Linked DNA regions of Homo sapiens. Changing the gene in region 1 together with any one later gene gives a genetic interaction. Each region holds a gene or a part of one and is shown in the gene's direction. Other genes may lie near its edges.

Region 1 (3,817 bases):
GCGAATTGCTGCTATAAACGTGTGTACATGTGTCTTTTTCATATGATTAGTTGTTTTCCTTTGGGTAGATACTCAGTAGTGGGATTGCTGGATCAAATGGTAGTTCTACTTTTAGTTTTTAGGTTTTTTTAGTTTTTTTTGAGACAGAGTCTTTCTCTGTTGCCCAGGCTGGAGTGCAGTGGCGTGATCTCAGCTCGCTGCAACCTCTGCCTCCCGAGTTCGAGCAATTCTCCTGCCTCAGCCTCCCGGGTAGCTGGGATTATAGGTGCCTGCCACCAGGTCCAGCTCATTTTTGTATTTTTAGTAGAGACAAGGTTTCACCAAGTTGGTCAGGCTTGTCTTGAACTCCTGACCTCGTGATCCGCCCATCTTGGCCTCCCAAAGTGTTGGGATTACAGGCGTGAGCCACTGCGCCTGGCCAGTTTTTTAAGGAATCTCCATATTGTTTTCCACAGTAGTTGTACTAGTTTACATTCCCACCAGCAGTGTATAAGAGTTCCCTTCTCACCACATCCATGCCATTGTCTATTTTTTTAATTATTATTTTTAAATTATGGCCATTCTTGCAGGAGTAAGGTGGTATCTCATTGTGGTTTTAATTTGCATTTCCCTGATAATTAGTGATGTTGAGCATTTTTTCTTATGTTTGTTGAAAATGTGTGAAATGCCACCTTTTAATACATTGGAAACCAATAATGTGATAATTTATGCTACCAGGTTAACTGGTTTTGCCACAGACTAGAATAAAACTCTGTTTGCCATCTTTGTCACATACTTTATGTCTGTGTGTCATTGATTAGGAAGGTTGTGTTAATGCACAGGCCTTTTGTAGAATTCAGGCCTGTACATGTTGGCCTCCAAAGCTGTGCAGCAAGTGTGCCATCGTGGCAGGTGCAGCCAGCCCAGCACATCTGCCTAGTGTGTGCTTTCCTCCTGACCCAAGAGTGTTATGCAGTGACCCAGCAACACAAAACAGGCAGAGAGGTCATAGTACTCTATTCCAGTTTTATTGCTTGCTGTCAGTTGTGGATACTTTTGTCCTTATTTTTGATAAAGAATTCATGATAAGGATAGCTGTTGTTATTGTTAGTGATTAAATTTTGAAATAAACATTGCTTATCATTTCTTTTTCAAGCTTCTGGGGCAGTTTTAGGAGGATCCTGAGGTGACTAGGAGAGCTATTAAAACTAATTTGGAACAATTTACCTTTGTGACTTATTGGATCTGTACACCTAAAACACAGAATAAATTGGATATTAAGGCTGATATAATGCTCTTGTTTACTATAACCTTTCATTTAAAATATTTATATTAAAAATAGCCTCATTGTTCTCATTGTCCTTATGAGTACATGCTGCATAAATTTAACAATTAACTTTTTTTAAAAAATGAATTATTTACTTTATATATTTATTGTAAATTCATTTGAAAAACTGGATTTCCTACTAAAAAACTAGTTGAATGTCGTCACTCCTAGGCAATTTGCTCTGCCTCTCGGCTTGAATGTCCACCTTGAGCCTGTGTGTTTCAGTCTTGACCTTGTATGTCAACTGTTCTCCCTGGCAAAGTCAGCCTCCTGTGGTGCTCCAGACTGTTGGTGTAGCATCAGTGATGGTCATGCCTTTACACCACTGTAACAGTAGATGCCATTGGCGGGGGTGGCGTTAGGCAGAGAGGAGTCACCAAACAGCAGTGATGGCAGAAACTTCATGTTTTCAACTGGGGACTTGTCACTTAGGAGGACTTTGTAGTTCCCTTTAATTTTCTGTCATTGTTAGAGGCCACTCTGTTTCCTTCATGTATGCTCTCATGGTGTCCTGCAAATCTTGTTCTGAGCTCTGCTGAAATACGGGGATATAAAGGTCTTGCCTGCTCACTGGATACATTTGTTGTAATAACTTCCTGTTATTTAATAATTCCTCATTCCTCATGACTATGATTTTACTCATAGCATTCTATTGTCTCAGCCTTGTCATTTGACCAGGTAGTATGTATGCTGTTTGAAGACTCTTTAACGTTGCCTATCAGTAGGCTACTGGTAGTGGTTTCTTTAAAGAGAAAATGGAAAACGTGAGAGAAGGAGATTAGCTGAAGACTCCGTAGGTCTTCATAAGCTGGCACTCCCTTGGCACGATAATCAAGGCCCAGACACTCACTGTGCTTGGCTTCTCAGGCACAGATACTCAGCTTTGTCTGTACACCTGGTTAGTCAGTGTATTCTCTTGCTTGTAGAAAGCCAAAGTATAATTAAGAGATTGATTAGTAAGCATGATATTAGCAAGGGAAATGAGTTGAATGATCCCGGTGACTCATGTTAGCAGACCAGTGAGGTGGGCTTGCATCCCTAGCAGGTGCACCCCTGCTTCTGAATGAGAGGCAGTGTGATCCAGACTTACTCTTAGGTTTTTATTTTCTAGGCATCACACAGGCTGCTTTTTTCCCTTGTGTCACAAACTTTCCTAAATTGTTTGGGTTATAGTATGTTTGTTTTAATCTTCAGTCTTTATAACAAACCTTGCTTTTCCTGCTTTAATTTGGGAGTATATTTTATCCTTCTCACTTTAAGATTTCTTTTTTTAAACCTCAGTGGTACGGTACATTTTTACTAATGGTGAGTCTCAGAGGATCACCTTATTGTCTCCATCCCCCACCCAGTATTCTCCCCATAATCTCTGTCCCACCACCCCTCGCCAAGAATCCTTTAGCATAGTTTCTCAGAACAATGTGGCAAAGATGTCAGTGGTTGGTGCTTTCATAAAATTCTTTTTGAATATTGTGTTCAAAAAGGATCATGATGGTATCTGGCTTTTCTGGATTTAAGTCATAAAATTAAATTTTAAAAAATCAGAACCACATCAGAATTCTATCCAGTTATTAAAAACTGTTTTTAAATAGTGTTTAGTGACATGTGAAGATGCTCATGATACAACTCCTTTTGGGGTGGTACCTGAGTAGCTCTTCTTAAGAAGATTCTCAAGTATTTCTGATGTATACATACTCACCGCTGTGTTCAGCAAGAACAAACAGACTATGAAACAGAATTTGCAGAAGATGGGAGCCAAAATTTGAGGTAGTTTTTCATCTCATACACATATTTGTCCACCGGCTGTGTCTGCCCTACTTCACTGTCTTCCTTCTACCTTATTTGGGGGAATTCCTCTCTTGACTCAAACTACATGGTACATATTGGAGCTGCCCTCTTCTTACAGATGCCAGGCCATAGGCATGACACTTGACCCAGTCCAGGCCAATTAGGATTCTTTCCTGGGATTTTTCAAATTGGAGCTGGGAGAGAGAAACGCGCATTTTACTGAAGTATAGGCTGAGAATTCATGAGCCTAGAGCTAGCTTCCTGAAGCTCCTACAGAGGACCTGGTCTCAGAGAGTGATGTTAATCCCCAGAGAAAAGCAGAGAGGCTGAAAGAGGTCTATGGCCAGTTGCCTTTAAAATAAATAAATAAATAAAAATAAATAAAGAGATGGCAGTCTCTGTATGTTACCCAGGCTGGATTCAAACTTCTGGTCTCAAAGAATTCTTTTGCCTTGGCCTCCCAAGTAGGTGGTACTACAGGTGCGCACCACCACACTGTCAGCCAGTTGCCCTTTTGTGCTAGATTTGTCCCTATTTTTCTCCTGATTTGATGTGAGCTAATCTCTATTTGTGCTTAAACTATTAATTTGAGTTAAACTTCTTAAAACCCTAATACTCAGTGTGATCGCATTTTAAAAAGTATGTGCATAGAAAAAAGATATAAAAAATACATACTAATTTTTCCTAAAACTTTTTATGATGAACGTGTTACACATTTTATTTTAA
Region 2 (3,817 bases), on another chromosome or scaffold:
CTTTCTCTGCTAAAAAAAAAAAAAAAAAATACAAAAATTAGCCAGGCATGGTGGTGCGTACCTGTAGTCCCAGCTACCTGGGAGGCTGAGGCAGGAGAACTGCTTGAACCCGGAAGGTGGAGGTTGCAATGAGCCGAGATTGCCCCACTGCAGTCCAGCTTGGGCAACAGAGTGAGACTTCTTCAACAACAACAAAAACAAATCAAACAATTGGGTTTGGGGCACATCCAAATAGCTAAACAGGTAAAGACTCCTGGAGGGTGGGTGTTTGGGAGAGGGCATGGAAGCTACCCCTTCCCCACATCCCTTGCCCTGTGCATTGCTTCCATCTGGGTATTCACCTGGATCCTTTGTAATTAACGGGTAAGCATAAGTAAAGTGTTTCCCTGAGCTCTGTGAGCCACTCTATTGAGAATCAAACCAAGGAGGGGGTCTGAGGAACCCCAGTTTATAGCCAGTCAGTCAGAAGCACAGGTCACAGCCTGGGATTTGTGACTGACATCTGAGGGAATTTGGGGCAGCAGTCTTCTGGGACTGAGCCCTTAACCGTTAGATGGATCTCCAGGTGCATAGTGTCAGAATTGAATTGAATTAGAGGATGTCCAACTGGTGTGTGGCGGGAGAGTTGCTTGGTGTATGGGGAAAACTCCCATACATCTGGTGTCTGATGTGTGTTGTGAGACTGTAATAGAAGATAACAGTTTGTTATTTTCTGTTCTTTAGAGTACCCCATGCCAGTTGTGAAAAGGCAGGCATGAGCTAGTTTAGACTTAATACAGACAGACACTCCTGGAGTTTGTACATGGACCCTGTGCAGTTTTACTTTTTTTTTTTGAGATGGAGTTTCGCTCTTGTTGCCCAGGCTAGGGTGCAATGGCGTGATCTTGGCTCACCACAACCTCTGCCTCCTGGGTTCAAGCGATTCTCCTGCCTCAGCCTCCTGAGTAGCTTGGATTACAGGCATGCGCCACCATGCCTGGCTAATTTTGTATTTTTAGTAGAGACGGGGTTTCACCATGTTGGTCAGGCTGGTCTCGAAATTACAACCTCAGGTGATCCGCCCGCCTCGGCCTGGGATTACAGGCGTGAGCCACCACATTTGGCCCAGTTTTACTTTTTAATGTGGGCTGGTGACAAGCAGAAGCATCTGCCTGTATCTGGACTCTCCTCCCAAGAGTTGGTTCGGCACCAGGGCCCATGGTGAGCTCAGTCTTCTGTCTGCCGTCTGTTCTCTGCAGGAGGCCTGCGGCTCACTGACCAGCTGGTTCTCAAGGTCACGCCTGTTGTGTGCATGTAAGAGTGTTGTAGGTGCCTTTGCAGCGATTGCTGGCTGATGGGTGTCTGTCTTTGCCTTTTCTTCAGATTGGACGAGGCCTTGGCCCAGTACTTTGGGAATGGGACAGAGTTGGCCCAGCAAGAAGATATCTACCCAGCCATGCCAGAGCCCATCAGGAAGTGCCCACAGTGCAACAAGGACATGGTCCTTAAGACCAAGAAGAATGGCGGGTGAGTGCGCTGCCTTCTGCCCCCACCTCTGCTCCCCAGCACCTGCGGTGTCAGCCGTAGCTCGAAAGACCCTGCCATTTCACTCCATGGAATCTTTCAAGACAGGCCTGTTGTTGCCAACCTGCAGGCAAGGTGTTGGCCTAAAAGCATAGCAGGGTGGGATCAGGCCTTTGAGGTGTAAAGCACTATGGGAATTCAGAGCAGGTGAGAAACTGAATGATAGTGGGGTTTTTTTGTCCCCTGTGGATAGGACATCATATACCCAATGTGTAACACATGGAGGAGCATGAGCTTCAGATCTAGGTGGGTCTGGGTTCAAATGCCACTTATGCCGCATATAAGTGGTGTGGCCTGAAGCAAGTTACTTACCTGCTCTGAACCCCAATTTCTTCTTTTATAAAATGTCAGTACTTACAAGGCTGTGTTAAGGGTGAGGATTTGGTGAAAATGGTCAGGACTATATAGCACATTGCCTGATGTGTTGTAGATACTCAGCAGATACTACTTTTGTTCTCTCCTAGTTTTAGTTCTGAATGGGGCCTGAAAATCTCAACTCCCTTTTCGCTTTAAATATAGTAGATCTGAGTGGGCAATTTAGCTTCACATCAGGTTGTTGGAGCCAGTGGCTGGCCACTGGAGGAAGTTCACGGGGAAAGACGAGGTGGAGGGGTGGCAGCCATCATTCATCAGGTGCCGTCCCTCACTGGTGTAATGCAGGGTGGTGCTCTGTAAGCATTACCTCATCCCATTCTCCTAACTACCCTGCAAGGCAGGGATTTTTATGCAGCTTAGAGGGCTGAGGTGCTTGCTTGGAGTCAAGCAGCCGTGGTGGGCAGCAGAGTTTGAAACCGGGTTTTCACTGCCTTTTTCCATCCTGCCTGGCCCACCTGGGACTGCTGTGCTCCTTGCTGCTGAATAAGAAAGGAGGTTTCTCAACTCCTCACCTCCAGCCATCATTAACCTGGCTGGCCCAAGTGAAGAGAAGGCCACCCAGGCTCTCAGAAACAAGAGGTCTATGGGCCAGACCTGGAAGCAGGTGTCAGGGCTCGCGTCACTCACAGACAGAAGCCAGTGCCACTCTAGGCTTAGCCCAATGACTGGGCGTATATTTCAGCACTTAATAAATGCTGTCGATGGGTTTTCCTTGCTATCGGTAGGTTATTGGATTAGTACTCATTGGAATATAAGGAGAGAGAATAACTACTTTTGTTTTAGCTCTGAATTCTCCAATTCTCTGAATTGGAGAATTATTATTATTCTTTAGTTATTCGTTTGTTCTTCTGTTATTCTTTTGTAATGCTTCTCTGAGTTACTCCAGAAGGTCAGGAGATTATCTTGTGGGATTTGCCACTCCATGATTTATCTGTTAATTTCCATTTCTGAGATTGTAAATTTCTTATTTAAATGATTGGAGTTCGGGGCTTTTTTTTCCTTCATAGTGTACCCAGGCACACTCATGAGGAATTTGTAAATCACATGCATATTAGCTAGTCAAACCCTAACGTTTCATGACTGCAAGGTGTTGAAAAACATTGGCCAGGAGAGACCGGGATGGGATGGATGGGCAGTGGGTGGGGTGTAGATGTTGCAGGTGAGGCTTTGTCACAAACAGATGGGTTTCCATTCCTGGCTCCCATCCACACATGCATGCATGTCTCTGGGCAGGTTTCCAGGCCACACCAAGCCACTGTTTACTCACATGCAAACTGAGGGGGCCCCTGACACTGCCCAGACTTGGCACGAGGCAGAAAGGCAAGAATGTGTGAGTGCACAGCACAGAGCCCCTGGCGTCAGCTTGGTTGGTTGTTGGTTTTCTAAATAGAAAGCAGGGCCAGCAATAGCTGCTTTGTGCTTTTGGGATGTGAGAAGGCTCATTTTTCCCAATCAATTCAATATGAGTGCTTGTGTATCCAGTTAAGTGTCATCCAGAAAAGGGAATGTTGTCCTCGGGCAGCTGAGGAAAGGCTGCCTTAGCTGATGGCCAACAGCGGAGAGCATCTCCTGCACTCCTATCATCTGACATGGCACTTTGTCCCCAGGTTCTACCTCAGCTGCATGGGTTTCCCAGAGTGTCGCTCAGCTGTGTGGCTTCCTGACTCGGTGCTGGAGGCCAGCAGGGACAGCAGTGTGTGTCCAGTTTGTCAGCCACACCCTGTGTACAGGTGAGCTGGGCACCTGAGTCAGGTGCCTCCTCTGGAGTGTGTACACCATCTTTCCCTTGCTCCTGCCAGAACCCAGAGAGGAGTGTCGGGGATTCCACTCAGGCCCTGCAGGGGCGTAGCTGTGTTCTGCAGCAGCCAGTTCAGCAGGG

Evidence for each region.
Region 2: changes in MAP3K4 (region 1) and TOP3A are lethal when combined (synthetic lethality), as found in Homo sapiens cells (one large-scale study listed by BioGRID).

The regions. Positions count from the first base shown.
Region 1 is NC_000006.12:160,994,579-160,998,395, forward strand, and holds part of MAP3K4 (mitogen-activated protein kinase kinase kinase 4), read left to right. Parts: intron 1-3,817. UniProt on the Homo sapiens protein: Component of a protein kinase signal transduction cascade. Activates the CSBP2, P38 and JNK MAPK pathways, but not the ERK pathway. Specifically phosphorylates and activates MAP2K4 and MAP2K6.
Region 2 is NC_000017.11:18,280,387-18,284,203, reverse strand, and holds part of TOP3A (DNA topoisomerase 3-alpha), read left to right. Parts: intron 1-1,362; coding exon 1,363-1,506; intron 1,507-3,545; coding exon 3,546-3,668; intron 3,669-3,817. UniProt on the Homo sapiens protein: Releases the supercoiling and torsional tension of DNA introduced during the DNA replication and transcription by transiently cleaving and rejoining one strand of the DNA duplex.